Linked DNA regions of Homo sapiens: region 2 is linked to region 1. The links come from fine-mapping of genetic effects on gene expression. A gene starts in region 1. The other region holds a variant in brackets. All regions are shown on one strand. Distances are from middle to middle. Region 1 holds the start of IDE (insulin degrading enzyme). Region 2 overlaps KIF11 (kinesin family member 11).

The links.
Region 2: its variant is fine-mapped to the expression of IDE in transverse colon (GTEx, PIP 0.99).

What each region holds. Positions count from the first base shown.
Region 1 is chr10:92,570,541-92,586,491 of GRCh38, reverse strand. IDE (insulin degrading enzyme) reads left to right here and starts at 12,399. Exons shown (of 25, transcript NM_004969.4): 1 at 12,399-12,570. The coding sequence starts at 12,473. RefSeq lists enhancers at 11,740-11,979, 11,990-12,049 and a silencer at 12,550-12,999.
Region 2 is chr10:92,642,693-92,658,643 of GRCh38, reverse strand. It overlaps KIF11 (kinesin family member 11), which reads right to left. Exons shown (of 22, transcript NM_004523.4): 18 at 13,002-13,281; 19 at 10,210-10,432; 20 at 8,658-8,809; 21 at 8,127-8,243; 22 at 3,249-4,979. The coding sequence ends at 4,848. Among named protein-coding and RNA genes, the nearest start is that of HHEX, 39 kb to the left of the region's middle. The variant C/A (reference allele first, on the strand shown) is at 9,544.

The sequences.
Region 1 (15,951 bases):
CTCATGAGTACCTGGGACTACAGGCACACACCACCACACCCAGTAATTTTTAAAGTTGTTCATAGACACAGGGTATTGCTTTGTTACCCAGGCTGGTCTCAAGCTGCTGGACTCAAGCAATCCTCCGCCTCAGCCTTCCAAAGTGCTAGGATTATAGGCATGAGCCACCCCTGTGCCAGACCTATACCGTTATCTTTTGATTAATCCATTTTAGACATTATTTATTGACATCTTATGGTAGGTGAGGTTTAGTTCTCAAACTTTACCATCCTCTCTGCATTTCCTTCTCTAATACCCAATATTACAATTTCTGGTTAAATCAATTATCTGTATTCAGGTCATTATGTCTGTTCATAGCTGAGCATTTCATTCTAGTGACTAGAAATTTTGCAATGAGGCGGGGTGTGGCGGCTCATGTCTGTAATCCCAGCACTTTGGGAGCCCGAGGCAGGTGGATCACCTGAAGTTGGGAGTTTGAGACCAGCCTGGCCAACATGGTGAAACCGTGTCTCTACTAAAAATATAAAAATTAGCTGGGCGTGGTGATGCACGTCTGTAATCCAAGCTACTTGGAGGCTGAGGCATGACAATCGCTTGAACCTGGGAGGTGGAGGTTACAGTGAGCCGAGATTGCACCACTGCACTCCAGCCTGGGTGACAGAGCAAGACTCCGTCTCAAAAAAAAAAAAAAAAAAAAAAAAAAAAAGAAAAGAAAAAAAGAAAGAAATCTTGCAGCTGGGCATGGTGGCTCACGCCTGTAATCCCAGCACTTTGGGAGGCTGAGGTGGGTGGATCACGAGGTCAGGAGTTCGAGACCAGCCTGGCCAATATGGTGAAACCCCATCTCTACTATAAATACAAAAATTAGCCGGGCATGGTGGCGCGTGCCTGTAGTCCCAGCTACTTGGGAGGCTGAGGCAGGAGAATCGCTTGAACCCGGGAGGTGGAGGTTGCAGTGAGCTGAGATCGTGCCACTGTACTCTAGCTGGGGCAACAGAGTGAGATGCTGTCTCAAAAAAAAACAAAAAACAAAAAAAAGAAATCTTGCAATGATGTGCCTTGGTGTGCATCTACTTTCTTTCTTTCTTTTTTTTTTTTTTGACACGGAGTCTCACACTGTCGCCCAGGCTGGGTGCAGTGGCGCAATCTTGGCTCACTGAAAGCTCCGCCTCCTGGGTTCACGCTATTCTCCTGCCTCAGCCTCCGGAGTAGCTGAGACTACAGGCGCCCGCCACCACGCCCGGCTAATTTTTTGTGTTTTTAGTAAAGACGGGGTTTCACCATGTTAACCAGGATGGTCTCGATCTCCTGACCTCATGGTCCGCCCGCCTTGGCCTCCCAAAGTGCTGGGATTACAGGTGTGAGCCACCATGCCCAGCCAATGTGTGCATCTACTTTCATTAATTGGGCTGAGCCACAGTCTGGCAAGTTGTTACCTTCAGTCTGGGAAATGTTTTTGAATTATTCATTGACTATTTCACTTGCCACGTCTGTTGTTTCTTTCTGGAACTCCTGTATAGAGATAGCAGATTTCTACCACCCAGCAATTACTACCATTAATATTTTGATGTATTTCTTTCCAGTTGTCTATTTGTATATTTTCAGTAATTGAGATCATAATTGAATATATAGGGTTTTTTTGGTCTTTCCCCCCCTTTTTATGGAGAACAGAGTCTCACTATGTTGCCCAGGCAGGTCTTGAACTCCTGGACTCAAACTATCGTGGACTCAAACTATCATTCTGCCTCTACCTCCTTAAGTGCTGGGATTACAGGGGTAAGCCACTATGCTCAACCTGGATATAGAATTTTGCATCCTGAATTTTTATTTAACGTAAGAATTCTTCCAAGACTCTCCAGACCTCATCTCTACAAAAAATGAAAATAGTCTCAGCCATGGTGGCACTCACCTGTGGTCCCAACTACTCGGGAGGCTGAGCTGGGAGGATCACTTGAGCCTGGGAGGTGAGGCTGCAGTGAGTCATTATCATACCAGTGCACTCCAGCCTGGGTGACAGAGCAAGATCTTATCTTGAAAAAAAAAATGGGGGCCAGGAGCGGTGGCTCGGGCCTGTAATCCCAGCACTTTGGGAGGCCGAGGCAGGTGGATCACGAGGTCAGGAGATCGAGACCATCCTGGCTAACACGGTGAAACCCCATCTCTACTAAAAGTACAAAAAAAATTAGCTGGGTGTGGTGGCGGGCGCCTGTAGTCCCAGCTACTTGGGAGGCTGAGGCAGGAGAATGGCATGAACCCGGGAGGCGGAGCTTGTAGTGAGCTGAGATTGCACCACTACACTCCAGCCTGGGTGACAGAGCAAGACTCCGTCTCAAAAAAAACAAAAAACAAAAACACCTTTAGCTGGTTTTAATTACTCAACAAATGTTTACTGAGCTTAGGTGCATACCCTGTGATAGTCACAAAAATGAATTTAAAAAGTCCTGCCCTGCCAGGCATGGTGGCTCACAGTTGTAATCCCAGCACTTTGGGAGGCCGAGGCTGGCAGATCGCCTGAGGTCGGGAGTTCAAGACCAGCCTGACCAACATGGAGAAACTCTGTCTCTACTAAAAATACAAAATTAACTGGGCATGGTGGCACATGCCTGTAATCTCAGTTACTTGGAAGGCTGAGGCGGGAGAACTGCTTGAATCTGGGAGGCAGAAGTTGCCGTGAGCCGAGATCATGGCATTGCACTCCAGCCTGGGCAACAAGAGCAAAACTCAGTCTCAGAAAAAACAAAAACAAAACAAACAAACAAAAAAACAGGCAGACAGGGTCTCACTCTGTCACCCAGGCTGGGGTGTAGTGGCATGATCTCGGCTCACTGCAGCCTTTGCCTCCCGGATTCAAGGGAGTCTTCTGCCTCAGTGTCCCAAGTAGCTAGGACTACAGGTGTGCACCACCAAACCCGGCTGCTTTTTGTATTTTTAGTTTTTTTTTTTTTTTTTTTTGAGACAGAGTTTTGCTCTTGTTGCCCAGGCTGGAGTGCAAGGGTGCAATCTCAGCTCACTGCAACCTCCACCTCCCAGGTTTAAGTGATTCTCCTGCCTCAGCCTTCCGAGTAGCTAGGATTACAGGCCTGCACCACCACACCCGGCTAATTTTGTATTTTTAGTAGAGACGGGGGTTTCTCCATGTTGGTCAGGCTGGTCTCGAACTCCTGATCTCAGGTGATCCGCCTGTCTCAGCTTCCCAAAGTGCTGGGATTACAGGTGTGAGCCACCGCGCCCAGCCGCTACTTTTTGTATTTTTAGTAGAGACGGGATTTTGCATTGTTGGCCAGTCTGGTCTCCAACTCCTGGCCTCAAGTGATCCAGCTGCCTCAGCCTCCCAAAGTGCTGGGATTACAGGTGTGAGCCACCACGCCTGGCCTTAACCTTTCATATTCATAATAAACAATAGATTAGGAGTGATGTCTTAGTCATTTTTGTATCCCACCTAGCAGCAAGCACAGTGCTTAGTAAACACTTCTCAAATGCATATTTGCTGAATCTGATCAAATCGGTGGATGTAACTACCATTTACAGGAAATATAAGAAACAAACATGTTAAGTCACATTGTAAGAATACAGTCAGCAGGCTGGGCACGCTGGCTCACGCCTGGAATCCCAGCACTTTGGGAGACTGAGGCGGGTGGATCGCTTGAGGTCAGGAGTTCAAGACCAGCCTGGGCAACGTGGTGAAACCCCGTCTCTACTAAAAAATACAAAAAAATTAGCCGAGCTTGGTGGTGCACGCCTGTAATCCCATCTACTCAGGAGGCTGAGGCAGGAGAATCACTTGAACCCAGGAGGCGGAGGTTATAGTGAGCCGAGGTCACTCCATTGCACTCCTCTTGTTGCTCCTGGGCAGCAAGAGCGAAACTCCATCTCAAAAAAATAAAAATAAAAAGAATACAGTCAGCAAAATTTAGAATGTTGGGAACACTATAGGATAAATGACTCAACTCCTTTGACAAATAAATTGCAAAATAAAAAAGAGGAGGGAGAGGCCAGGTGCAGTGGCTCACGCCTGTAATCCTAGCACTTTGGCAGGCCAAGGCAGATGGATCACCTGTCAGGAGTTTAAGACCAGCTTGACCAACATGGCGAAACCCCATCTCTACTAAAAAAATACAAAAATTGGCCAGGCGTGGTGGGTCATGCCTGTAATCCCAGCACTTTGGGAGGCCGAGCCGGATGGATTGTGTGGTCAGGAGATTGAGACCAGCCTGACCAATATGGTGAAACCCCATCTCTACTAAAAATACAAAAATTAGCCAGGCATAGTGGCATGCACTTGTAATCCCAGCTACTCAGGAGGCTGAGGCAGGAGAATCTCTTGAACACGGGAGGCAGAGGTTGCAGTGAGCCGACATTCTGCCACTGCACTCTAGCCTGGGTGACAGAGCAGGACTCCGTCTCAAACAAACAAACAAAATAAATAAATAAATAAATAAATAAATAAATAAAAGATTTAGAATTGACAAGCTATGGGCCAGGCACGGTGGCTCACGCCTATAATCCCAGCACTTTGGGAGGCCAAGGCAGGTGGATCACCTGAGGTCAGGAGATTGAGACCATCCTGGCTAACACAGTGAAAACCCCGTCTCTACTAAAAATACAAAAAATTAGCTGGGCATTGTGGCGCATGCCTGTAATCCCAGCTACTTGGGAGGTTGAGACAGAATTGCTTAAACCAGGGAATCGGAGGTTGCAGTGAGCCAAGATTGCACCACTGCACTCCAGCCTGCTGACAGAGTGAGACTTCATCTCAAAAAAAAAAGTAAACAAACAGGCCGGCGCGGTGGCTCATGTCTGTAATCCCAGAACTTTGGGAGGCTGAGGCAGGAGGATCATCTGAGGTCAGGAGTTCAAGACCAGCCTGACCAACATTGTGAAACCCGGTCTCTACTAAAAAAAAAAAAAAAAATTAGCAGGGCATGGTGGTGGGCCCCTGTAATCCAAGCTACTTGGGAGGCTGAGGCAGGAGAATCACTTAAACCTGAAAGGCAGAGGTTGCAGTGAGTTGAAATCACGCCACTGCACTCCAGCCTGGGCAACAGAGTGAGACTGTCTCAAAAAAAAAAAAAAAAAAAAAAAGAAAAGAAAGAAAAGAAAAGAAAGTGAACAAACAAAAATTATTCTAAAAAATATGGATAAATCTCACCAGATAGTTAAACAAAGCCAGACCCAAAAGAGTATATACTGTATGAGTGCATTTATATTAAACTGTAATCCAGGCAAAACTAATTTATTGTGTTAGAAGTCAGGTTAGTGTTTACCCTTGGGGTGACAGTGACTGAAACGGAGAATAAGGCAGAGCTTCTGGGTGTGTTTACAGGGATGTGTTCAGTTTTTGAAAATTCACTGAGCTGTACACTTATCACTTGTTTACTTTTCTGTTTGCAATACTTCAATAAACTCTTCAAAAAAGATCATCTTCAAAAGATACAAAACAAAATAAAAAAAGGAAACATATTAATTAAATGAAGTGTTTTGTTCTTGTTTGGATCCTGATTTGAACAAACCCATTGTGAAAAAGAAACATTTGAGGCAATCAGGAAAGTGGGAACACTCAGGAAAGTGGGAACACTGACTACATATTTGATTATATTAAATAATTATCTTAATGTTTTAAGTATGTTAGTGCCTGTGGATTTTCTTTAAGTCCTTTGAGACATATACTGAAATACTGAGATGAAATATTAATAATATGATGCCCGGTATTTGGTTCAGAATAATTTAGTGGAGGTTGAGGGAGTTGGAGGAAAAGATAGAACAATATTGGCCATGAACTGGTAATTATGGAAGCTGAATAATGAATGGATGCCTGGGGTATTTATTTATGGACATTGTTTGGCTGTGGAATTCTAAAATCGTATTTTTCAAAATGTTTTTATCCTAAATCACAAAATCTATGTTGACATTATTGGGCTATAGAATTCTAAAATCATATTTTGCCTGGAATAGTTATACTATTTTCTTTTATTTTGTTTATGTTTGACTACTTGTTCCATAATACAAAGTTTTCTCTTTTTTCTTTTTTTTTTTCTTTTTGAGACAGAGTTTCGCTCTTGTTGCTCAGGCTGGAGTGCAATGGCGCAATCTCAGCTCACTGCACTCTCCACCTCCCAGGTTTAAGCAATTCTCCTGCCTCAGCCTCCTGAGTAGCTGGGATTACAGGCATGCACCACCACACCTGGCTAATTTTGTGTTAATAGAGACGGGGCTTCTCCATGTTGGTCAGGCTGGTCTCCAACTCTCGACCTCAGGTGATCCACCTACCTCGGCCTCCCAAAGTGCTGGGATTACAGGCGTGAGCCACCATGCCCAGCTTTTTTTCTTTTTTTCTTTTTTTTAATGAGACAGAGTTTTGCTCTTGTTGCCCAGGCTGGAGTGCAATGGCATGATCTTGGCTCACTGCAACCTCTGCCTCCTGGGTTCAAGCAATTCTCCTGCCTCAGCCTCCTGGGTAGCTGGGACTACAAACGCCTGCCACTGTACCCGGCTAATTTTTTGTATTTTTAGTAGAGTCAGGGTTTCATCACATTGGCCAGGCTGGTCTCGAACTCCTGACCTTAGGTGAGCCATCCGCCTCAGCCTCCCCAAGTGCTGGGATTACAGGCGTGAGCCACCGTGCCCCTCCCAATAAAAAGTTTTAAAATGTATATTAGTTTTAAGTACAATACTATGGTAATAAAATACCTAAAAGCAACATGAATTTTTAAAAATGTTTTATAGATAAGTGATTAATTATAAATTTGTTTGTTAGGAGTTTTCCTAAATGACTCATCTTTGCTAGTCCTTAAAGGTAAATTTGAGTTACTTTATGGGCAGGATCTATAATTCGTATTTTCCACACACAGTTAAGACAACTCTTGATTTATGCATTCAACAAATATTATGGGCCCAGGGCTTGCTTTCAATGTTGAGGATACACCAGAGAAAAGAGCAACCAGGTTTCTATGCTTGTGGTATTTACATGTTAGTGAGAGAGATAAATGAGAAAATTAAGACACATAAAATAAGGCTGGGTGCGGTGGTTTTCATGCCTGTAATCCCAGCACTTTGGGAGGCCGAGGTGGGCAGATCACCTGAGGTCAGGGGTTCGAGACCAGCTTGGCCAACATGGTGAAACCCAGTCTCAACTAAAAATACAAAAAAATCAGCAGGGCGTGGTGGCTCATGCCTGTAGTCCTAGCTACTTGGGAGGCTGAGGCAGGAGAATCGCTTGAACCCGGGAGGCAGAGGTTGCAGTGAGCTGAGATCACTCCACTGCACTCCAGCCTGGGCCACAGAGGGAGACCCCGTTTTAAAAAGATAAAAAAGGCCGGGTGCAGTGGCTCATGCCTGTAACCCCAGCACTTCGGGAGGCTGCGGTGGGTGGATCACCTGAAGTCAGGAGTTTGAGACCAGCCTGGCCAACATGGTGAAACCCTGTCTCTACTAAAAATACAAAAATTAGCTGAGCGTGGTGGCAGGTGCCTATAATCCTAGCTACTCAGGAGGCTGAGGCAGGAGAATCGCTTGAACCTGGGAGGTAGAGGTTGCAGTGAGCCAAGACCACACCATTGCACTCCAGCCTGGGTGACAGAGTGAGACTCTGTCTCAATTAAAAAAAAAATGTCTTTTGAGACATTTTTCTTTTGAGAAAAAGAAAATTGATGGCTAAAACCAATGTTCCTCAGCTGTTCATTAAAGAATTGGCATTGCTCAAGAGCCTTAAAAAATAATACAAATAAAAATGATGTTTATGAAAAATGTTTAAGGTCTTGTAAGAATTGTTGTTTGAGACAGGGTCTGGCAGTCTTGCCCAGGCTGGAGTGCAGTGGCATGATTTTGGCTCACTGCAACTTCCACCTCCTGGGCTCAAGCCATCCTCACACCTCAACATCCAGAGTAGTTGGGACCGCAGGCATGCACCACCATGCCCGGCTAATTTTTTGTTTTGTTTTGATTTTATCTTTATTTTAAATAGAGATGAGGTCTATGTTGCCCAGGCTGGTCTCGAACTCCTAAGCTCAAGTGATCCTCCTGCTTTGGCCTCCCAAAGTGCTAGCATTACAGGCATGAGCTACTGCACCTGCTGCCTAATTTAGTTTTTATTTTTTTATATAGACAAGGCCTGACTATGTAGCCAAAGCTGGTCTTGAACTCCTGAGCTCAAGCACCCTCTCACCTCTGCCTCCCAAATTGTTGGGATTACAGGCATAAGCCACCGCGTCTGGCCCTAACTTTAAATTTTCCTTTGTTATTAACTACCTAGGTATGCTTTCTCTTTAGCTATTTGTACAAAATTTTGAGTTGGTGGATTCAGAATTCAGATTTTGATTTTGAATATATAACAATAGGCTAGATTAGTTCAAAAGACATTTTTTTTTTTTGAGATGGAGTTTCACTCGTTGTCCAGGCTGGAGTGCAATGGCTTCATCTCGGCTCACCGCAACCTCCGCCTCCCGGGTTCAAGCAATTCTCCCGCCTCAGCCTTCCGAGTGCTGGGATTACAGGCATGCGCCACCATGTCCAGTTAATTTTGTATTTTTAGTAGAGACGGGTTTTCTCCCTGTTGGTCAGGCTGGTCTCGAACTCCCAACCTCAGGTGATCCGCCCACTTTGGCCTCCCAAAGTGCTGGGATTACAGGCGTGAGTCACTGTGCCCAGTCTCAAAAGACATTTTAAGTTTTATTTTCGAGACAGGGTCTCACTCTGTAACCTAGGCCGGAGTGCAGTGGCACGATCTCAGCTCACTGCAACCTCTGCCTCCCAGGTTCAAGCGATTCTTGTGCCTCAGCCTCCCAAGTAGCTGGGACACAGGTGCACACCATCATGCCCAGCTAATTTTTTAATTTTTCTGTAGAGACAGGGTTTCACCATGTTAGCCAGGCTGGTCTCAAACTCCTCACCTCAAGTGATTCACCTGCCTCATCCTCCCAAAGAGCTGGGATTACAGGTGTGAGCCACTGCACCCGGCCTATTTAAAAAAAAAAAAAAAAAAAATTCTTGCCCGGGCGCGGTGGCTCACGCCTGTAATCCCAGCACTTTGGGAGGCCAAGACAGGCGGGTCACCTGAGGTTGGGAGTTGGAGACCAGCCTGATCAACATGGAGAAACCCGTCTCTACTAAAAACACAAAAATTAGCTGGGTGTGGTGGCGCATGCCTGTAATCCCAGCTACTTGGGAGGCTGAGGCAGGAGATTTGCTTGAACCTGGGAGGCGGAGGTTGCGCTGAGCCAAGATCATGCCATTGCACTCCAGCCTGGGTGACAAGAGCAAAACTTCGCCTCAAAAAAAAAAAAAAAATTCCTTTTCTTTCCTCTGCTAAAACATCTGGGGGGACAAAAGATATTATTTTTCTGAACATTACCAATTAGGAAATAAACGCCAATCTGTCACCACTGGGCTTCCTTTTTAAGTTTTTTTCTTTCAATCATTAGGAACTCCTGACTCAGCTCTATGGTGAACTCTATTCTATCTGGGCTAATGGAAGGAACTTACAGCACAGATAAACACTAATATTTGGCTTCCAGTATATCAGAATACTTATATTTGAATATGTGTCTAGTTTTCCTATCTAAGGCAAAGAATGACTTCAGCACATTACTTTTTCTGCTTCTAAAAAAGTTGTAGGCCGGGCATGGAGGCTCACGCCTATAATCCCAGCGCTTTGGGAAGCTGAGGTAGGGGGGATCATGAGGTCAAGAGATCGAGACCATCCTGGCCAGCATGGTGAAATCCCGTCTCTACTAAAAATACAAAAATTAGCTGGGCATGGTGGCGTGCGCCAGTAGTCCCAGCTACTCTGGAGGCTGAGGCAGGAGAATCACATGAATCCGGGAGGTGGAGGTTGCAGTGAGCCGAGATCGCGCCACTGCACTCCAGCCTGGTGACAGAGCGAGACTCCATCAAAAAAAAAAAAAGAAAGAAAAGAAAAAAAAGTTGTCTAGGTGGTTTACACCTTATACTTGTTTGAGTGAGAGTGGGAAAGATTACACCCTAGACCTTCACATTTCCTACTTTTTCTCATCATTCTGGGGTCTGCCTGAATGTCACTTCCTCAAAGAGGCCTTTCCTGACCACCTGTTCCTTCATATCACTTACTCACTTGATTATTATCTGTTTTTCCCACACAGCTAGAAGGTAATCTCCATCAAGACAGAAACTTTTGTCTTTTTTGTCCACTGCTGTATTCCCAGCACCTTTATAATACCTGGTATCTGTAAGGCATTCAACAAATATTTGTCAAGTCATAAATGAGATGAGCAAATCACAGGTTTTGGAATAAGACAGTCCTGGGTTCAAATTACAACTCCACTCTTTTTGTCCAATTGTTGGCAAGTTACTCAACCTCTCTCTGCCACAGCTTCCTCATCTCTGGTAGGTGAGGAAATATCCATTACAGAGGGTGGTCATGATGACTAATGAAGGAGCCATGTACAATGCCAGACACAGAGTAGACTCTCAAAATTGTTACTTTTCTTTCCATCCACCTCCTCTTTATTGAGATGATAGTTATGAGACTATATTAATATTAATCTTTCTTATCCAGGACATCTACTCCAACCAGAGGGAAATTTATCATGAAGCTAATGAAGTTTAAACTTCAGGGCTGCTCACTTGCACAGGCTCCAAACTGGGAGTTGTAGAGGGAAAGCCAGTTGTTGTCTGGAAGCATTTTTTTTTTTTTTGAGACATAGAGTCTCATTTTGTTGCCCAGGCTGGAGTGCAGTGGCGTGATCTTGGCTCACTGCAACCTCCGCCTCCAGGGTTCAAGTGATTCTCCTGCCTCAGCCTCCTCAGTAGCTGGGATTACAGACGCATGCCACCACGCCTGGCTAATTTTTGTATTTTTAGTAGACACGGGGTTTCACCATTTTGGTCAGGCTGGTCTCGAACTCCTGATCTCGTTATCCGCCCGGCTTGGCCTCCCAAAGTGCTGGGATTACAGGCATGAGCCACCACGCCCGGCCATCTGGAAGCATTTTTATGTAAGCATTTCTAATAAGTAGCCTAAAGAGATCTCAGGAAAAAAAAGGGTACTAATCTCCAAGTCTCGAGTATTTGTTGTGATGTATTTTCTCTCTATAGTAATCTTCTGATTGCTAATTTTGTATTTATAATTTGTATTTTATGTCTCAAAGAGGTCCCCCAAATTGTATATGTTTCAAGCCCTCCAAGTCTGAATCTACCCCAGCCCATTTATAGATTCCATTAATGGAGCATAAATGTATTCAGAAAGGCTGCATTAACACTCTCAGAGGAGCTGCTTCAAGGTGATTGACTACTCTGCATTGGGACTGGTAATTTAAAGGTTCTTAAAACCATGCACTTGCAAACACCACTAGGAGGCTTGCCATAATTTTTACCTGTTTTCATCCAAAGGTTTGCCTTTAGGTGAAACCGCACTGTTAAAAAGATCGTGGGTACGTCTTCGATAAAGCATCAACTTGATTAAGGAACCCTCCTACTGAATTCCCATTTAAAGCAATACTTGGACTAAGGACACCGTTTTTGGCTGCAGTCTTGATCGTCTGTCAATCAGAAACCTAAAAGTACTTAAGCTGGCAAGTCACCATCCCTAATAGCATTCTTCCTTAAAGACTCCCATAAGGTATTATGGAAAGTTAGATTCATAACAACTATTAAGTTGTTCGTGGGTGCAAAGCCCCATAAAGCCACTGGGGAGAAAATTCTTTGTTTAAAAAGTAACCACTGAAGCCGACTGACATTAGTAGTATTCCTAGTACGGAGTACTAACAAGAGTAGTAGTTTCTACTCTGGATTTGAAGCCTTGTTTTGCTGCGGCGCCCGTCCCATCCGCACCTTCCTCTTAAGAGAGCTGCTAACTTCCCCAAGGATGGAAACGTCCCCCTGGGTCCTGGCCTCTCTATCGCTGACCCCTGCGTCTGAATTTCCCCCACGCCGCACTCGAGCCTTGTCTCCAGCGCATCTGTGCCTTCGCGGTCCACGTCCCCACCGCGCTCTAGAGGGAGCCCGCGGGCCGCGCGCCGGCCGCGGATTCATTTTACGTGAGGCCGCCGCGACCACGAACCTTGTTCCAACACCTGCAGGGTCCGGCACGCTAGTCAGTGGGGGTGCCTCAGAAAACATAGCCCCGTGTGCCCTCACTGGATTTATGAGCGGCCCCTCGCCCCCTCACAGTCAGACACACGTCGCCACCCTCACAAGTGCGGCCGGTGGGATCTAGCTGGGACCCTCCCCGCCTGGGAAAGTCTGGGTGCTGGCTCCTAAAGCGCCCCGGCCAAACCCCTGTCCCTCCAGTCCGCCTGCTCAGGCCTCGGCTGTCCGCGGTCTTCACCGTCCTCGCCTGCGTCCTGGCCCCATCCGGCTCCAGGCAAAACCCGGAGCAGCTACCTCTCCGCAGCTCCCGGGAGACCGCGCGGCGCCGCGGCTAGAGCATGCGCAGTGCGCAGGGCCGGCTCGAAGCGCAAGCAGGAAGCGTTTGCGGTGATCCCGGCGACTGCGCTGGCTAATGCGGTACCGGCTAGCGTGGCTTCTGCACCCCGCACTGCCCAGCACCTTCCGCTCAGTCCTCGGCGCCCGCCTGCCGCCTCCGGAGCGCCTGTGTGGGTAAGCGGAATGGAGCGCCCGGGCCCTCGGGCCCCGTGGGTCACAGCGGTTTGGCGCTCGGGTTGCAAAGTGGTGATTCAGCACTTAAAGCCGCCACCGCTGCCCCTCACGCCGCCCGTCCCGCCGGCCTGGGGCCCGTACTGCCGCGCTGAGGCCGCCCCAGGGCCCGGAAGAGCGGCTCGCCAGGCGGGAGCCAGAGGCCTGGTCCAGAGTCGGGGACGTCCCTTGGGCTGGTGAGGGGCCGGGGCCGCTACCCGGGGCCACGGGGCGTGTGCCACTAGTGCGGGGGGCGCAGGGGCGGACAGAGTCACCCGGCCTGCACCTGGGAGCCGCGCCGCGTCACTCTCCCGGAGTCCGCCTGTGAGGGGGCCGGGAACCTGAGGCGGACTCGAGCCGTGGGGTAAAGGAATCCGGCGACTTCGGGGGGACCGCTTCTCACCTTGCCCTCAGCCCTGCCCTTTTCTCCGGGCACTGAGTTTCCAGGACCGTGTGGAATGCCCGCGCTGGGAAAAAAGTTTGCCTGCCTCCCGCCTTGGAAGACGAGTGTGGGGTTTCCTATCGGGGGACATTTAGGAGCCAAAAGATACCTCGGGATCCTCTACAGCAGCTCCCTTGTTTTACGTCGGAGACAACCGGAGCTCCGAGAGATGGCTTGATTTCCCAGCAACTGCCGAGATTGTGGCAAAACCAGGATTAGGACACAGGTTTTTTGCCATCCGGCGGCGTGCCCTCTCCACTGCACCGTTGATCTGCGTACGCTAGGCGTTTTCAGGCTTGTAGTGAACGCTGAATACTTTTTACTACGAATGGAAGAAGATAGGCAGTATTATCTTGCCCTCCCTAGAAACGTTATTTGAACCCCTGCTGGTTTTAATCAGTAATAGCCAGCACCTACTAAGTGCAGGGCACTGTGCTGGACCCTCTATGTAAAGTATGTGTCTGCCTTCCAAGGAACTTTGACTTGATTGGAGCGGATTGGGATGCCACGGGAATTGAGATAGCTACAAGGGTGTGTTGATGAGGGTCAGAAGATGGGTAGTATGGGTAGTGTGTGGGGCCAGAGATGGGGGGGTAGGCTGGCTTTGGAAGGAATGGCAGAAAGGTTGGAGTGAGGGCTGGCGTGGGCGTAATCCAGCCTAGATATGCGGGCAGTTTGTGTTGGGGGAGCAGTGAGCCGATTAGTCTGGTTGAAGCTTTATAGAATTTCCTTGGGGTAATTAGAAGGACACAAGTCCTGTATTATAACAGTAGGGTAATGCTGGCCTGGGTCTTGAATTTTAGTTGGGATTTTCCCAATGCGTAGTAGGTAGGGAGCCATTAAAGTTTTTGAGCTGGAAAGTTATCTGATGGAACTGGGGGTTTAGGAAAGTAGTTTGGTGGCTGTGTGCAGGATGTCAGGAAGTGGAGAGAGTCCTAAGGCAGAGAAACCTGTTGGGACTTAGTCTTTACTGCCTGTATTAGGATGGTAGCAGTGGGGCACTAAGATAAGCTAATACAAATGAAGACTCTATGGAACTTGTTCTCCTCTGTTTTCCACTACATCACAAAATCTCCTATAATGTGCAAAAGACCCCTGAACTTAGAGAATCAGGTGGTAAGCACAGGCAGGATGCCTCCTTTTGTCCTCTTTTGTGTCAGTCTGCTTTTGTTCTAAATTCATTACTGATAGGCTAGGCTTAGCTGTCTCCATACTGTCTCCAGCATATAGCATTTGTGATTTTTAAAGAAAGCACCAATTTTAAGTTTTGTATAACTAAGTGGTTTGTATGTTCTAGTTAAAATTACATTTTCTCTGTAGTTATAAAGTCCGGTCGACCATCCAGAGTTTTAAGATATGTTTTTCTCAAAGATGGAAATTTGAGAGATTCAAAGCATAATGAATGAGATGAGCCAGCTAGAAAGCTCTACCCTAAAATCAGTGAGTGAGGCTTTTGAGGAAAATACAGGTCCAACCAAAGGGATTAGGGCATAGTTTTAGGAAGGAAAGCACTAACATCTGAAGCTACCACATATTCTCATCTTAAGGAATGCAATCAGCCCTACTGTACATAGTCGGAAGAATGTCTTAACAGAGATAGCCACACAGCTATTTGCTGGAAGAGCTGGGATTTAACCCATGTCTATCTGGCATCGGAGCCTGAGCTCTTAACTGTTATGTATTTGCAAACACAAGTACTGCCTCTGCTGGTATTTGGGCATTCATTTTCTGGTCTAACCTCTTGAGACAGAGATGGTCTTAAAGCATTTATGTAAGATCAATCCATTTACAGAGTAACCTCCTTGTTCTGTGTTCAGCTGTATTTTATAACTTGGGACTGTGTGGAATTATCTGAACTACTGGGGCACCTGGAGATAATAGCCCATTCCCTGGCAACAACTTGAGCCACCTGGGCATCAGTCATCTCACTTTGCAGGCAGCCCTACTTTGCATTTCCCTGTTCCATAGGCTTAGGAAACAGTGGTATGTCAGTTGGGACTATCAACATTCAAGCTTTTAAACTACTGTCAATCAGAAAAATGCCTTTTAATAGTGTAAAAGAACAGGGTACCCCTGAAGTTTCTTTAACCTAATCCACACATTCTGCCTGTCTTGAAAGTTAGGGTTGAGGCCAGGTGGGGTGGCTCATGCCTGTAATCCCAACACTTTGACAGGGCGAGGTCGGGGGGATCACTTGAGGTCAGGAGTTCAAGACCAGCCTGGGCAACATGGTGAAACCCCATCTCTACTAAAAATACAAAAAAATTAGCCGGGCGTGGTGGTGGGCGCTTGTAATCCCAGCTACTCATGAGGCTGAGGCAGGAGAATCGCTTGAACCCGGGAGGCTGAGGCAGGAGAATCGCTTGAACCCAGGAGGCGGAGGTGCAGTGAGCTGAGATCGTGCCACTGCACTCCAGCCTGGGTGACTGAGCGAGACTGTGTCTTAAAAAAAAAGAAGTTAGGGTTGGGGACAGTCTCCCCAGGGTAGGGGAGAAAAAGTTCAGTATGTTTTCTTTTTTTTAAAGTTCGAGACAGGGTTTCACTCTGTCGCCCAGGCTGGAGTGCAGTGATGTGATCTCAGCTCACTGCAGCCTTCATCTCTTGGGTTCAAGTGATCCTCCCACCTCAGCCTCCTGAGTAGCTGGGACTGCAGGCTCATGCCACCACCCCACAACTAATTTTTGTATTTTTGGTAGAGATGGGGTTTTGTCATGTTGCCCAGGGTGGTCTCAAACTCCTGGGCTGAAGCAATCCCCCTGCCTCCCAAAGTGCTGGGGTTACAGGCATGAGCCACTGTGCCAGGCCCAGTATATGTTTCATAAACACTGGTTTCCTTTCTGTTTTTCTGTTGGTATTTTATATCTCCTAAACATGTAGCCAGAGGATCAGGCTACCTTTTAGCC
Region 2 (15,951 bases), 72 kb before region 1:
TTCATATATTGATGGGTTGTTTACACCATTGGGTCATTGTGAATAGTGCTGCTATAGCATCTGTGTATAAATTTTTGTGGATGCATGTTTTCTTTTCTCTTGGGAAGACAGCTAGGAATGGAATTGCTGGGCTATATGGTAATTCTGTTTATCTTTTCAGGAACCACCAAACTCTTTGTCTACAGTGGCTGAACCATTTTACATTCCCATGAGCAATGTACAAGGTTCCCATTTTCAGGCTGGGCGGGGTGGCTCACGCCTGAAATCTTAGTACTTTGGGAGGCCAAGACAGGTGGATCACTTGAGATCAGGAGCTCAAGACTAACCTGGGCAACATGGCGAAACCCCATTTCTACTAAAAATATAAAAATTAGCCAGAAAAAAAATTAGCTGGGTGTGATGGTAAGCACCTGTAATCCCAGCTACTCCAGAGGCTGAGGCAGGAGAATCACTGGAACCCAAAAGGTGGAGGTTGCAGTGAGCTGAGATAGCACCACTGCACTCCAGCCTGGGTGACAGAACGACACTCCATCTCAGAAAACAAGAAGGCTCCCATTTTCCAGCATCCCCAACACCACTTTTTTTTTTCTGTATTTTTTGTTATAGCCATCCTTCTGGATGTGAAGTGGTATCTCACTGTGATTTGGATTTGCATTTCTCTGATTGCCACTGTCTTTCTGCTTCCAAGATCCTCTTTTCAGTTTTGGACAGTTTATATATGTCTCGACATGGATCTTTCCTGACTTATCCTATTTGGAGTTCTGCAAACTTCTTGGATGGGTACATTCAAGTGTTTTCACAAATTTGAGGTGTTTGGGGCCATTATTTCTTCAAATATTCTTTCTGCCCCTTTCTCTCTCCTCTCCTTCTGAAACTCCTATTTTGCAAAGGTTGGTATGCTTGGTGGTAATCCATAGCTTTCTTAAATTGCTTCTTTCCTTTGTTCTTCTGCTCCTCAGATGGATAATTTCAATTGATCTACCTTCAGCTTCACTGATTCTTTCTACTGTCTGGCCATATCTGCTATTAGAACCATTTTTTCCCCCTTTTTTTTATTGCACTTTTCAGCTAATTTTTATGGTTCCTTTTTATAATTTCTTTGACAATCTCTATGAGACATTGTTTCCCTGTATTCCCTTAGCTCTTTGAGCACTTTTGAGACAGTTGATTTACAAATTTTGTCTTAAAGTCCAATGTCTATGCTTCCTCAGATAGTTTATTCTAATTTTTTCTGAGTGGGCTATACTTTCTTTGCATGCTTCACAGTTTTTTGTTGAAAGCTGAATATTACTTTACTATTAACTCTGGAAACCAGATTCTTCACTCCTCAGGGTTTTTGTTACTTGCTGTGGGTTGTAGTGGTTTGTTTAGTGACTTGTATATATTTAGAGACAAAGTCTCACTCTGTTCCCGAGGCTGGAATGCAGTGGCGCAATCATAGCTGACTGTAGCCTCAAACCCCTGGGCTCAATCAATCCTTCCACCTCAGCCTCCCAAGTGGTTGGGACTATAGGCCTGTGCCACCATGCCCAACTAATTAAAAAAAATTTTTTTTTTATAGAGACGAGTTCTCACTATGTTGCCCGGGCAGGTCTCGAACTCCTGGGTTCAAGTGATCCTCCCACCTTGGCCTCCCAAAATACTGAAATTACAGGCATGAGCCACAGCACCCGGTCCTAGTGACTTTTCTGACCTGTTTTTGTAAAGTTTCTGTTCTTTGACTTACACGGTCTGTAAGGTGTCTTCCTTTTGCTAGCGTTCAGCCAGTGTGATGAGATTTCTTTGAAAACTGGTTGCCCCAAAAATTGACAAGGGAAGAAAAAAACCCTCAGTTTTTGCTGATTGGCTGTGTTGGGACACACCTTCAGTGCCTATCCGGCCCATCTGAAATTGGCCTTAGCCTTTACTTCCTGCTTGCACTGAGCCTACACATCAGCCAGACATGAAATCTTGGGGTCTTCTCAGGTTTGAATGTGCAGACTGACCTGGGACTGTGCATGGCTTTCTAAATCCCCCAATATACATGGGTGCTTTTGAATAACCTAATTTCCCTAAGAAATTCTGCTGCTTTCCTCTCAGGCTTTAGGCACTCCTTTGTTTACCTCAACGGTAACTTTTTGCCTCAGGCGGCAGCAGGTTGTTCATTTGCCTTACAATATTTAGAGACAAACATGCCAATTTCACACCATGACTGAGTTCTGAGTTACACGAAACAAATGCAGGTGCCTTTTGTCAGTCCTTGAGGCTGCCAGACAGGTCAGAACAAACATAATCTTTCAAGAATAAAATCTCTGGGGCTGGATGTGGTGGCTCATGCCTATAATCCAAGCACTTTGGGAGGCCGAAAAGGGTGGATCACCTGAGATCAGGAGTTTGAGACCAGCCTGGCCAACATGGTGAAACCCCGTCTCTACTAAAAATACAAAAATTAGCAGGTGTCGTGGTGTGTGCCTGTGGTCCCAGCTACTTGGGAGGCTGAGGCACAAATTGCTTGAACCCGGGAGGTTGCAGTGAGCCGAGATCATGCCAATGCACTCTGGCCTGGGTGGCAGGGTGAGACTGTCTCCAAAAAAAAAAAAAAAAATCTCTCTTCTCCCTAGAAACCCAAGACCAGGACTCCACGCTGAGAATGTGTTCTGTGTCTTCAAGACTGTTGCAGAGCTGAGAATGGGGAAAGGGCAAGTAAAACACTGCCAAGCTTTCCTTCTTTCTAGGTTGCCTTTTTCTTGATTCAGCAAATGCTTGGTGCTGTAAACTATTTTCCTGGGTTCTGACAAAGTTGTTTCTGAATGTTTTTGCTTGATTTTTCAATGTTTCTGTGGAGGAAAAGGTCCTTGAAGCTACCTACTTGGCCATTTTTGCTGATGCTACTCTTGGTTACATTCTGAGGGCCCGACATTGTGTATGAAAATTGGTAGAGCTAATTTATGGTTCTGGATGTTAAAATTATCTGGAGATTTATTTTTGCTTCTGTGAGGCAGTGAAATTAGTTGCATCAGCATTCTCAGATAACTTAAACAGTCATGGAATGAGATGACTTAAAGCTGGACTTCAGGCTGTGTGAGGGCCTACTTCTCACTAACCTTGCACCTAGGATAGCCCCTTGGAGTGCAACTAAAAGCCTGCAAGTTTACTAGGCTCCTTCTTCTTTGGTGGTACCTGCATAGTTTATTTTGGGAATGTGAATGCAGCTTGCCTAACCCTCTAAATATACCCATTGCCAGATAAGAAATTATGGAGCAAGCAGGTTAATGTAGAAACCACATTTATTAACCATGGATTTACTGAGGGCAGTTTATTAGGTATTATCCATCGCTTATGCTGACATCTGATTTTGCAGAGAAATTATAGCCATTATTTTATTAAGATAATTCTACGAGATCAATTTAGTTTCTTGAAGTAGCATATATTCAATTCTTCAATAGGGTTTGGTTTAATTTAGCTATCAAAGTCAGATGTCTCTAAACTTTACACACTAAACTCATCGTGAGCAGAAAATTTATTCTTTGTACATATTCCTTCTGTTTTGGTTCTTCAAGCTGAAACATCTCAACTTCCAGAAATATGGTTGCCAGATCAAAAATACCAGAGTCCTAAGGGTTAAGATTTGAATCGAGAAAAAGATACATGTACACATTGTATTATATACAAACAAGCAACAACAAAAAGTTTCATCATGTAAACAAAAGAATATAAATTATAGACATAATTGGAAGTTTCAAACAGTCCTTAAATCATTGTGAGCTTCTCTAAAAGGCACAGGTCTTGGAGTGTGGGCACAGAGCCATTAGTCAGATGTCTGGGTGGTCTCCCATAATAGCAATGTATACTCTTAAGTGGGCTTTTTGTGAACTCTGTCAGGGTGAATGAGTTAGGCCTCTTAAAGGAATGAAATGCTTTCACATTTGGGGCAACAAGTGAAAAATACTGAAAGGAGGGATACAACTAGGGTTAGATTTATTGTTGACAGTGATTTTAGAAATAACCACTAAAAAGGTGTTAAAAGATTTCTAGATAAAATTCTGACTACTGAAAATAAGAAAGGATACCTTTTGTAGCTCTACAAATGGTTTGGTGAAAAATAAAAAGGGAGAAAGTGAGCCGAGGAGAAAGCGAAATAGGGAAGTCTAGGGAGGATGCAAGAAAATACACAAGTCATAGCAAGAAAAAAAACATGAGATGGTCCTTTCTAAGGACAGATGTTGGTGATATTTACCTATGTAAGCTCAAGCTGAGAAGAGTACAGTTCTTATATATTCATTACTTAATAATATACAAGAAAAATACTTTTCATTTGTTATAAAAGAACTACTTTATATGAAAACTAGAAATACGTATTTACATTGCAAATCCCAAATGAAACCCAATTTAATACAAAGTGAACTATAGGGATGACAGAAAAATGGGTAGATATCAAAATTCAACTGAATTTACAGTACTGCCTTATATCTTTTTTAAATTTTGTTTTTGAGACCGAGTCTTGCTCTGTTGCCCAGGCTGGAGTGTAGTGGTGTACCTTTGGCTCACTGCAACCCCGCTTCCTGGGTTCAAGTGATTCTCGTGCCTCAGCCTCCCCAGTAGCTGGGATTACAGGAGTGTGCCACCACGCCCGGCTAATTTTTAACAGAGACGAGGTTTTGCCACGTTGGCCAGGCTGGTCTCAAACTCCTGGGCTCAAGCAATCCACCCGCCTCAGCCTCCCAAAGTGCTGGGATTACAGGCATGAGCCACCGCGCCCGGCTGATATATATATTCTTTTAAAATCTATACACAAGGCTCAAGTTCTGGGGTTTCAGGTTTTATTTTTAAGTTTTCTTTAAAAATAAAATTGCCAACCCCCAAGTGAATTAAAGGTTGATCTGGGCTCGCAGAGGTAATCTGCTCTTTGTAACCAAGTGCTCTGTAGTTTCTTCCACTTTAGACCTCTCCAGTGTGTTAATGCCTCTGTTTTCTTTGTCTTTTCCATGTGATTTTTTATGCTGTGGATTTAAGGCGGGAAAATTAAGTCAATACAAAGTAACATTAGATACACATTAACTACACTCTATTTTCAAAGTTCTCTGGGTTATAGGCAAAAAAACTTAAGTGTAGAAAACCAAAAAAGGTTCAGCACAAGTTTGAGCCAACAATTTGGCAAGTAGCGCCAAATGCCTTCTTTATTTGATCACTAATGGAAGGAGTAGAGTGAAAGAAATATTAATTTTCTGTGTTATTTTCTAAGACATAGTTATAGATTTTACTCCAGGGTAGTGGTTCTCATCAGGGAGTGATTCTGCTGCCACAGGGGACATTTGGCAATGCTGAGAGACTTTTTTGGTGTTACAATCAGGGAGTGCTACTGGCTTTGAGTGAGTATTCACATAGTACACTGTTTTTCTTGTGTACCAACATAGTACAGTCCACAGGAAAGCCCATCACAACAAAGAATTATCCAGTTTAAAATGCCAATAGCACTGCTGTCAAGAAACCCTGCTCTAAGGAAACAAAGATTTGCTGTCATGCAGAAAAGCCAATTCTGTTTTAAGCAGAGAAACTGGTATATGGGCCACCTTAAAAACACTTTTACTTGTTTTTTAAAATTGTATTTTATTTTATTTGTAAAACCTATTTCATATTCCTCATTTGGAAGTTCTATTTCATTGGAATCCTACTTACCCATACAGAACATTAATGGACTGGTGACATTCATTGTACACTCAGTCATCAATGCTGAGACAAATTGTAAACCAACTTTTAAAGTTTTAAACGCAGAGAAAATCCCCACATCACACTGCTACTAGGGAAAAGATCATTTCTGGACTTCAGCTGAAGGTCTAAAACCCCATCCCAAACCCTTTCTGGTACTGTAGGGACTTCCTTGCCATAGCTGAATCACTAAGCCTAATTCAAAATGCCACAGATAATAATAATAAAACGATTTCTGACCAGGGATTAAGTAGTCACCAGGTTCTCTTATCCTTCCCCCTTTCCTAACTTTATAAGATAGAAGAAAAGGATGAAAACTGAAAGAAACATATTTATAGTTCTCTAATAGTAAGGAATAAAGCAAAAGGTGGCAAGAATTTGGGAATAAAATTGCCCAGAGGAAGACAGGGAGGAATTTATGAGAATCTGAGTTGGAACTTTGTTAACTGTTGAAAGCAGGGATGGAGAATCTTTAGACCTTAAGGGAAGGAGCTGTAGATCTATTAAAAAACAGTTACAGGCCGAGCGCGGTGGCTCACGCTTGTAATCCCAGCACTTTGGGAGGCCGAGGCGGGCGGATCACCTGAGGTCGGGAGTTCAAGATTAGCCTGACCAACATGGAGAAACCCCTTCTCTACTAAAAATACAATATTAGCCAGGTGTGGTGGTGCATGCCTGTAATCCCAGCTACTCGGGAGGATGAGGCAAGAGAATCGCTAGAACCCGGGAGGCGGAGATTGTGGTGAGCCAAGATCAGGCAATTGCACTCTGGCCTGGGCAACAAGAGCAAAACTCCGTCTCAAAAACAAAAAAACAAAACAAGACATACACACAAAAAAGGTACAAGCAGCCAGGCGCAGTGGTTCATGCCTGTAATCCTAGCATTTTGGGAGGCTGAGGTAGGAGGGCTGCTTGAGGCCAAGAGTTCAAGACCAGTCTGGCCAACATAGCAAGACCCTCTCTCTATATATATTTAAAAAAAAAAAAAAAAAAAAAAGGTACAAGCATATGCATCTCAGAAGTAGAACTTCAACTGTAAATGTAGATACCAATGTCCTACGTAAGGAAATTTTTCCTTCACACACTCTGTCTAGGCTTGTACCCTCAAATTAGAGGAAAAGATACCAGCACTTTATAGAGCCTCACTTGGAAGTTGTATTTCATTGGAATCCTCCTACTTACCCATAGAGAACATTAAGGGACTGGTGACATTGATTGTGTACTCAGTCATCAATGCTGAGATGAATCATAAACCAACTATGTTCTCAACAGTGTTAAAAAGTGGGTAGGAGGGGCCGGGCCGGTGGCTCACACCTGTAATCCCAGCACTACGGGAGGCCGAGGCAGGCAGATCACCTGAAGTTGGGAGTTCGAGACCAGCCTGACCAACACAGAGAAACCCCCTCTACTAAAAAAAAAAAAAAAAAAAAAAAAAAAAAAAAAAAAAAAAACAAAATTAGCCAGGCATGGTGGCACATGCCTGTAATCCTGGCTACTCGGGAGGCTGAGGCAGGAGAATCACTTGAACCCAGGAGGTGGAAGTTGCGGTGAGCCAAGATCGTGCCATTGCACTCCAGCCTGGGAAACAAGAGCGAAGCTCCGTCTCAAAAGAAAAAAAAAAGTGGGTAGAGGGCTGGGCACAGTGGCTCACGCCTGTAATCCCAGCACTTTGGGAGGCCGAGGAGGGTAGATAACTTGAGGTCAGGAGTTTGAGACCAGCCTGGCCCACATAGTGAAACCCTGTCTCTACTAAAAATACAAAAAAATTAGCCAGGTGTGGTGGTGCATGCCTGTAATCCTAGCTACCCGGGAGGCTGAGTCAGGAGAATCACTTGAACTCAGGAGGCGGAGGTTAAGTGAGCCAAGATCGTGCCACTCCACTTCAGCCTGGGTGACTCAGTCTCAAAAAAAAAAGAAGAGTGGGTAGGAGAGGTCACAGGATTTAATTACACTGGATTAGAGCAGGCAAGGTGCTCAGGAAACATGGGGCAACAGTTTACAAGAGAAGAGCCTCAGGCAGGAGAAATCACTAATATAACCTAAGAGGCCTCCAGTCTCTCAATCTTTTCAATCACTTTGCCTTCAAAGTCTGATTATGGGCAGAGATAGGTTCCAAGACTTACATGTCAAAGGTAGAAGGAAGAGAAATGACTGCTCTCAGTGTCTGAGTATATAGCAAGCAGAAAAGGAATAAATACAATAGCTAAAGATTATCAGCTAAGGATGTAGATTAAGTCAAATTCTGCCTTCATTTATTCTACAGAAAACCCCTTATCAATATCAGATTTTTGTAAATAATTCAAATCATAAGCGTTAACAAGCCATCCTAAGGAATAATTGAAAGGTTTTTGTTGTTCTGCTCACCACGAACAATACCTTTATAATGAATAGTAAATGAATGACTTACATCAGATGTGGAAGGGTTATCTGATATGACATACCTGGAAAAATGGAACCCCGCCAATTGATGAACAATCCACACCAGCATCTACAGATGGCTCTTGACTTAGAGGTTCTTCAGTATACTGCCCCAGAACTGCCTCTTCTACATCCACATCCTAAAAGAAGAAACTGGATGAGTGACTAAGTCCAAGGGCTTAAAAGTCATCACAAGAGTAACAGCAGCTTTGAGTATAACACAATGCCCATGGTATAATATAAAAGTTAAACCTCAACAAAATTATTAGAAAGTCTACAAATTAATGAAAATAATTCCTAATATATTTTTATAGAGAGTAGAGGTTCCTATATAACAATGTTACTAAGCACAATATTAAGTATTGGCTATTATTATCTACTAGCATAATTTAAAAACTAGTAAGATTAAAAGAAACAAGCCTAAGGGCTAGGCCTATCATTAATGAGAGGCGGGGTAAGATTGAGGGGTAAACAGTAAAATTCTTCACATGAAGTCAGCCACATCAAGAGTTCATAAAAGAGTTCTATTATAAAATATGATCCTTTAAATTTACCGGAATTGTCTCTTCTTTGTTGTTTTCTGAACAGTTTAGCATCATTAACAGCTCAGGCTGTTTCCTTTTCAGCTGATCAAGGAGATGTTCACGTGGTTCAGTTCTTACCAGTGTTGATGGGTATAAATAACTTTTCCTCTGTGGTGTCGTACCTTTAACGGACATTAGATAAGAGGTAAAAATTAAAGTATGAGATGTAAATATTTTTAAAAAAACCTAAAACTTCCTAATTAATCTTGTCTTCTAAAAATATAAAAATATAATTGCCATATATGAGGATCAGTCTTGCTACCTGTCAGACATTGTTTGCAACTAACAATACTTTCTAATTTGATGACAGACTTTACTGTTTTCAAGATTCATCCTACTCTCTAAAACATGAAGTTTACCATCTCTGAGGATATATAAAAGATGTGTTATAAGCTCTAAAAGGAGTTATAGTGTTCTGAAAAAAATGGCAGCATTATTGGAATGAGTAGATTTCCCAACATGATTACTTTGATAGGAGTAATCATTTCACTATAAATGTGGTGTGGTGGTTAAATATTAACTAGTTATATACATATACTATGTTGCCCAGGCTGGTCTTGAACCCCTGGGCTCAAACGATCCTCCTGCCTTGCCTCCCGAAGTGCTGGGATTATAGGTGTGAGCCACCGCATCAGGCCCCCAGTTATATTTCTCTGTAATAAGCTCATGCTCTCATGATTTACAAAAGTACTTGCCTTTTCACTCAACATTTACATTCCTAACTTCATTGAAAAGTAGACAGTAAATCCTACAGGTCTCTTGGGGAATAAATAAACCAACATTCTATGTAGCACCATCCCCTTTTAACAATTGCTTTTTAAATTAAAAAAAAAAAAGAGTTTTGTGATATAATTTA[C/A]ATACCATAAAACACTCATTTTATGTGTACAATTCAGTGGATTTTAGTGAGTTTACAGGGTGTGCAACCATTACCATAATCCAATGAAGAACCCAATTATTCATGCTGTGTAAAACAGCTTGTTACATCTCTTCCATGAAGACCTCCCTGAATCATTACAGCCTATAATGATCTTTGCCATATGTGATCTCTCAAAATGTTGATTCCTAAATGCTAATGGTCCATGGTGATCCCTGATCTCTTAAAACAGGGATTCCTAAATGGCAATAGTCTATGACAAAATGAGAGGGACACAGAACAAAATGCACAATGTGGTAAACTTTGCATTAAACTAGATTTAGTCAGTTACATCTCTCCCATATTTGTGGTATTAAAATGTCCTTTTACAAACAGTGCTAGGTTTGTATTTGTTTTAAAAAATCCCCTATTAACAAAGTCAACTCCCTGAAAGTATGTGAAATTATACTGAATTGTGATACCACCTGTATCATGACACTTGATTAAAACTATTTTAAGGTTCCAGTTTTCCCATTTTGAGTTGATTACAGTGAGATGTTAAATTTCTGTCAGGCAATGGCAGGACCTAATTTTTCTGAACATCTGACACTACATAGAGTTGAATTCGACTTCAAAAAATTTAACAATTCTATTTCTCTTTTAAAGTACCTGTTGGGATATCCAGTTTCAGATCCTGTTCCAGAAAGCAATTAAGCTTAGTCAAACCAATTTTTATGGTTTCATTAAGTTCTAGATTTTGTGCTATCAATTTATCTTCATCAATAGTCATCTGATCAAGAAAAATGTTATGCTGTTTCTCATGAGCTGCCTTACGTCCATCTGATTTCTCAGTGATGTCTGAACTTGAAGCCTCACAACATTGGCTTACAACCTGTAAATGATGCAAATAAATATTTATTACTAAAATTAAAGTTGCCAGTGTTTTATTCAACATCATATTTTCCCTTACCTTTTCCATAATTTTTTTTTTTTTTGGAGACAAGTCTCACTCTGTTGCCCAGGCTGGAGTGCAGTGGCATGAGTAGTGCTCACTACAGCCTTGACCTCCCAGGCTCAAGCCATCCTCCCACCTCAGCCTCCCAGGTAGCTGGGACTACAGGCATGTACCACCATGCCTGGCTAATTTTTGTATTTTTTGAAGAGATGGCATTTCACCATGTTGCCCAAGCTGGTCTCAAACTCCTGGGCTCAAGCAATCTGCCCACCTTGACCTCCAAAGATTACAGGCATGAGCCACCACACCTGGCCTTCAGTAATAAAAGATTTAAAAACACATACAAAAGTAGAGAGAACAGTATAATTAACTCCCTTGTATTCATTACCCAGCTTCAACATTTACCAACAAGTGGAGTACAGACATTTACCAACAGGACTGGCCACTCAACTCCTCCATAAACCCAGGATTATTTTGAAACAAATCCTGTATCATTTCATCCATTTACTTCAGCATGTATCTCTAAGAGGTAAGAGCACTTTAAGACCACTATCACATCTAAAAAGGTTAACACTGATTCCTTCCTATCAAATGTCTAGTCCATGTTCAAACTTCACCAGTCGTCTCAAATGTGTGTCACAATTGCTTTGTTTGAACCAGAATTCACCACTAGATTTGGTTCATAGGTCTTAAGTCGGTGACTATATAATTTATCATCCAAATTGGGACACCTTTTGGAGTGAAAGGGCCCATTCTTAATAATCATTCTAATACAACAATATCAACAAGGACTGTCTCAGGCAAACTAAGACTTAAGGACCTCTAGTCTTAAGTCTCTTTTGATATACAGGTTATTGTTTCTCATATTTTTTCCCTTGAAAAAAAAAACTTGTTGCTGAAGACATGAGGTCTTTACCCCATTGAACATCTCAAATTCTGGATTTGGTCAACTGCATTTCTATGCTTTATTTTCTACAAACTGGTTAGACCTAAAGGCTTGATTTAATTCAGGTTTAATTTTTTAGCAAGAGTATTTCATAGGTAGTACTGCAAGCACAAAATGCTTTGCTGTGTCTCTCATGTTAAGATTTATCAGTGAGTTCAGGTATGGTTAGCCTATTAATTATAAAGTTCCCCAACAGCTTTTGATCAAATGGTTTAAGCCATCATTAACATCCACAGGGGTTATTTTATTAAGAGTTGCATACTGGTGATATATTAATTCTATCATTTCTTCTCCATTTTATTAGCTTAGAGTCTAATGAAACACTTTTCTTCATTACCCTGCTAAACCAAGATATGGTTCTTTTAGGAAAGACAGATGGATGCTAAATTTTTTCTTCTTCTTTACCCATTTTCAGGACAATGTGTTGCTTCCCTAGCATGATCCAAAGGAGACCTATGAAATTTTTATGAGTTCGTAAGTTTTAATATATTTGATATGTTTTAATCCATTATGGCCATTATTCTTTTTGATGCTCAAATTATGCCACCTTTGAAGATGGGGAGGTTGGCTACTAAGACCTTTTGACAACCTCAGAAATCTTTAACAGCTTCCTTACTCTCTGGTATGACAAGATCTCTAGGCTCATATATTATACATTTCCTATCACAAATCTGAAATTAGCTATTTGTATACAAACTCTAGTTCCTTTTAGTGAAAACAGCTTATATAGATTAAAAATTTTAATTCTTTGTACCTACTTCCTGAGAATGTTAGTAAAATCCTATTAATGCAAAGAAAGAAAAAACCAAGTTACAAAGGGCTCATGCAAGCGTTAAGTTCAAGCAAATCCATAAACCTATCAAGTATCCTTTAGTTACCAGAACAATAACCTAAATACTTAAAATAATAATAGGTTTGAATGTACTTGGAGAAAAGTAAAAAGCAAAGATAGGCCGGGCGCAGTGGCTCATGCCTGTAATCCCAGCACTTTGGGAGGCCGAGGCGGGTGGATCATGAGGTCAGGAGTTTGACACCAGCCTGGCCAATATAGTGAAACCCCATCTCTACTAAAAATACAAAAAAATTAGCCGGGTGTGGTGGCAGGTGCCTATAATCCCAACTACTCGAGAGGCTGAGGCAGGAGAATCGCTTGAACTTGGGAGGCGGAGGTTGCAGTGAGCTGAGATCGTGCCATTGCACTCCAGCCTGGGCAACAGAGTGAGACTCCATCTCAAAAAAAAAAAAAAAAAAAGCATATATAAGTGGAAGGTATTACATATCAAAAGACAGGGTGCCCTTCTTTGAAGAAACTACTAAGTCAGAAACCAAGGATAAATACAGGAAAGAAACTGTACAAATGTTAAATTAATTCCAAGATTGAGAAGACATATAACAAAGCACAAAACGAGATCATCTGTAAGCATACCAAATATTATACTTAAAAGTTTAAGTCATTATAGCTTAAAATATCATTTGTTTTGAAATCTATTCTTAGCCAAGAATATTTAACTTTCTGATTATTATTCTCCCCAAAGTAAGTTCCACTTACAAAGTTATTACCTCCAATAAGTTGTGAAGTTCCTGTTCCCTTTCATTTAAGGAAGATACCCACTGTTCAGAAAAATAAACTGTTCTTGTGTTCAGAGATTCACATCTCTGTTCAGTCTCTTGAGATATTTTTTCCAGGTTGCCATTGAGTTTATCAGAGTGTTTCACAGATTCTTCAACCAATTTTGTACCTTCTTGGTTAAAATTTCTGAGTTCCTGTGAGAAGCCATCAGAATCAGCACAAAATTTTTGACTGTGAAAAGTCATTTTGTTGACTATATCCTTAGATTTCCTATAGGAAAAGAGAATGACACTGTTGAAATGGGGAATTAAGACTCAAAGGATATATAACTTCCCAAGATCACTCAGCTCTTAAGTGGCAGATCTGAACGTGGACAGTCTGGCTCCAGGGCCCGTGATCTTAGTAAATCTTCTGCATTGAGAATGGATGCCTTGGCCACTGTCTTTTCACAGCATTGCCATTAAATGACCTTTGAAAGGATCATCTTTGCTCATGAAACCTTTCACAACCCTCCTCCAGTTATGATGCTTTCAAAATCTGTCTACTTGTTTTATTCCTCTTACTAGGCAATGTTACTTCAGGGCATCTACTACAGCCTCTTGTCTAGTCCCTAAATTGGACAATCAGTCATTTATTCTGTTATTAAGCAGTTTCCCTTGCCTAGTATGTAAAACAAATCATGAACATTACAAATGTTATGTTTAAATTAGCTATAAAGCTTTCTAATAATTAAAATTATATTGGGGTGTGACAAATTATACATATAGAACAATGTAACATAAACTTGATATAATATTAATGTTGGTTAGACATACATTTAAAATTCATTGATAATTTCCATCTCGGTAAGTTGCCCTATAATAGCATTCCAAGTTATCTTACAAGATTTAAACCTTGTGGAATGAAGTGACTCTCTATTACCACTAGATGGTACACCACGTGGGTAAACCAAGTGAGTCAGCAAAGATGTTAAAAACCAAACCTACACGTGAAAGTCACAATGACTGAAAAAAGGGCAAGGCATAGTGGCTCACACCTCTAATCCCAGCACTTTGGGAGGCCGAGGCAGGTGGATCACCTGAGGTCAGGAGTTAGAGACCAGTCCGGCCAATATGGTGAAGCCCTGTCTCTATTAAAAATACAATAAATTAGCCGGGCGTGGTGGTGGGTGCCTGTAATCTCAGCTACTTGGGAGAGAGTGAGGCAGGAGAATTGGTTGACCCTAGGAGGCAGAGGTTGCAGTGAGCTGAGATTGTGTCATTGTACTCCAGCCTGGGCGACAGAGCAAGACTCTGTCTCAAATAAAAAAAACAAAACAAAATCTCACAACTTAATGGGAAGACGAGATTGAGTTAAAAGTACTATAAGCCATGACAATAAATGCCAAACGCAGTTATGTGCAGTGTGTACATAAACATCACCTAGATTCCTGGGTGATGAATACAAAGTCCCTAGACCATACTGGGAAACTCTGGTGTAGACAATAAATGTCAGGAAAGCAGGAAAAATGATTTGCATGGGCCTTAAGAAAGTATATCATACTTCCCTTCCTACTTCAATCCTACTCTAGTATTTCCTCCACGGCTATGGAATGGCCTAGAAATCCATCAGTCTAGATACTAGGAATAAAAAGTAGGACATACTTTTTTGATTCAGCATATAGGAAGAGTTCACAATGGAACATGCTATACTTAACAGGATCAAAAACAGGGTTGAAAAACAAATGACAGAAGTTAGGTAGGGATATATAAATGATAGCTAGAGTTCCAGAACAGCACTGTTCAACAGAAGTATAATAGAAGCCACATATGCAATTAAAAATTTCTGAGGCGGGCAATCACAAGGTCAGGAGTTTGAGACTAGCCTGGCCAATATGGTGAAACCCCCGTCTCTACTAAAAATACAAAAATTAGCCGGGCATGGTGGTAGGTGCCTGTAATCCCAGCTACTTGGGAGGCTGAGGCAGGAGAATTGCTTGAACCTGGGAGGCAGAGGTTGCAGTGAGCCAAGATTGCACCACTGCACTCCAGCCTGGGTGACAGACCAAGACTCCCTCTCAAAAAAAAAAAAAAAAAAATCTAGTAGATACATTAAAAAAGAAAATAGATAAAGCAATTCAAGTAACAATGTATTAGGTGTTTATTGCACATATAAACACCTAAGTAAAACATATGAAAATAATGACAAACGGGAAAGAGGAAACAGGAATATACTATTATAATGTCCTTTCACTACACATGAAACAGCAAATTATTTGATAATGGATTCAAATTATCTTAAAATGTATACAAATTCAAATTATCTTAAAATGTATACTTTAAATCCTAGACATACTACTAAAAAGGGAATATTTAAAAAGTATAAATAAGTCAATGGAAGAGATAAAAACATAAAAAGTGCTCAATTTAAATGAGGAAAGGCAGCTGGGTGCAGTGCCTCACACCTATAATCCCAGCACTTTGGGAGGCCAGGGCAGGTAAATCACTTGAGGTCAGGAGTTCGAAACCAGCCTGGCCAACATGGTGAAACCCCATCTCTAGTAAAAATTTAAAAATTAGCTGGGCATGGTGGTGTGTGCCTGTAGCCCCAGCTACTCAGGAGGCTGAGGCAGGAGAATCACTTGAACCCGGGAGGCAGAGGTTGCAGTGAGCCAAGATTGCACCACTGTACTCCGGCCTGGGCCACAGAGCAAGACTCTGTCTCAAATAAATAAATAAAAATAAAACATCATAGATTATAAATTTGATGAAAAAGCAAGACCCAACTACATGCTGTCTATAAGAAACCCACTTTAAATATAAAGACTTAGACCAAAAGTAAAGAGATGGAGAAGGATACATCATACAAATAGCAATCAAAGGAAAGCTAGAAAACCTGTATTCATTTCAGACAAAACAGACTTCAGAACAAGAGCTTATCAGAAATAAAAGTGGATATTAC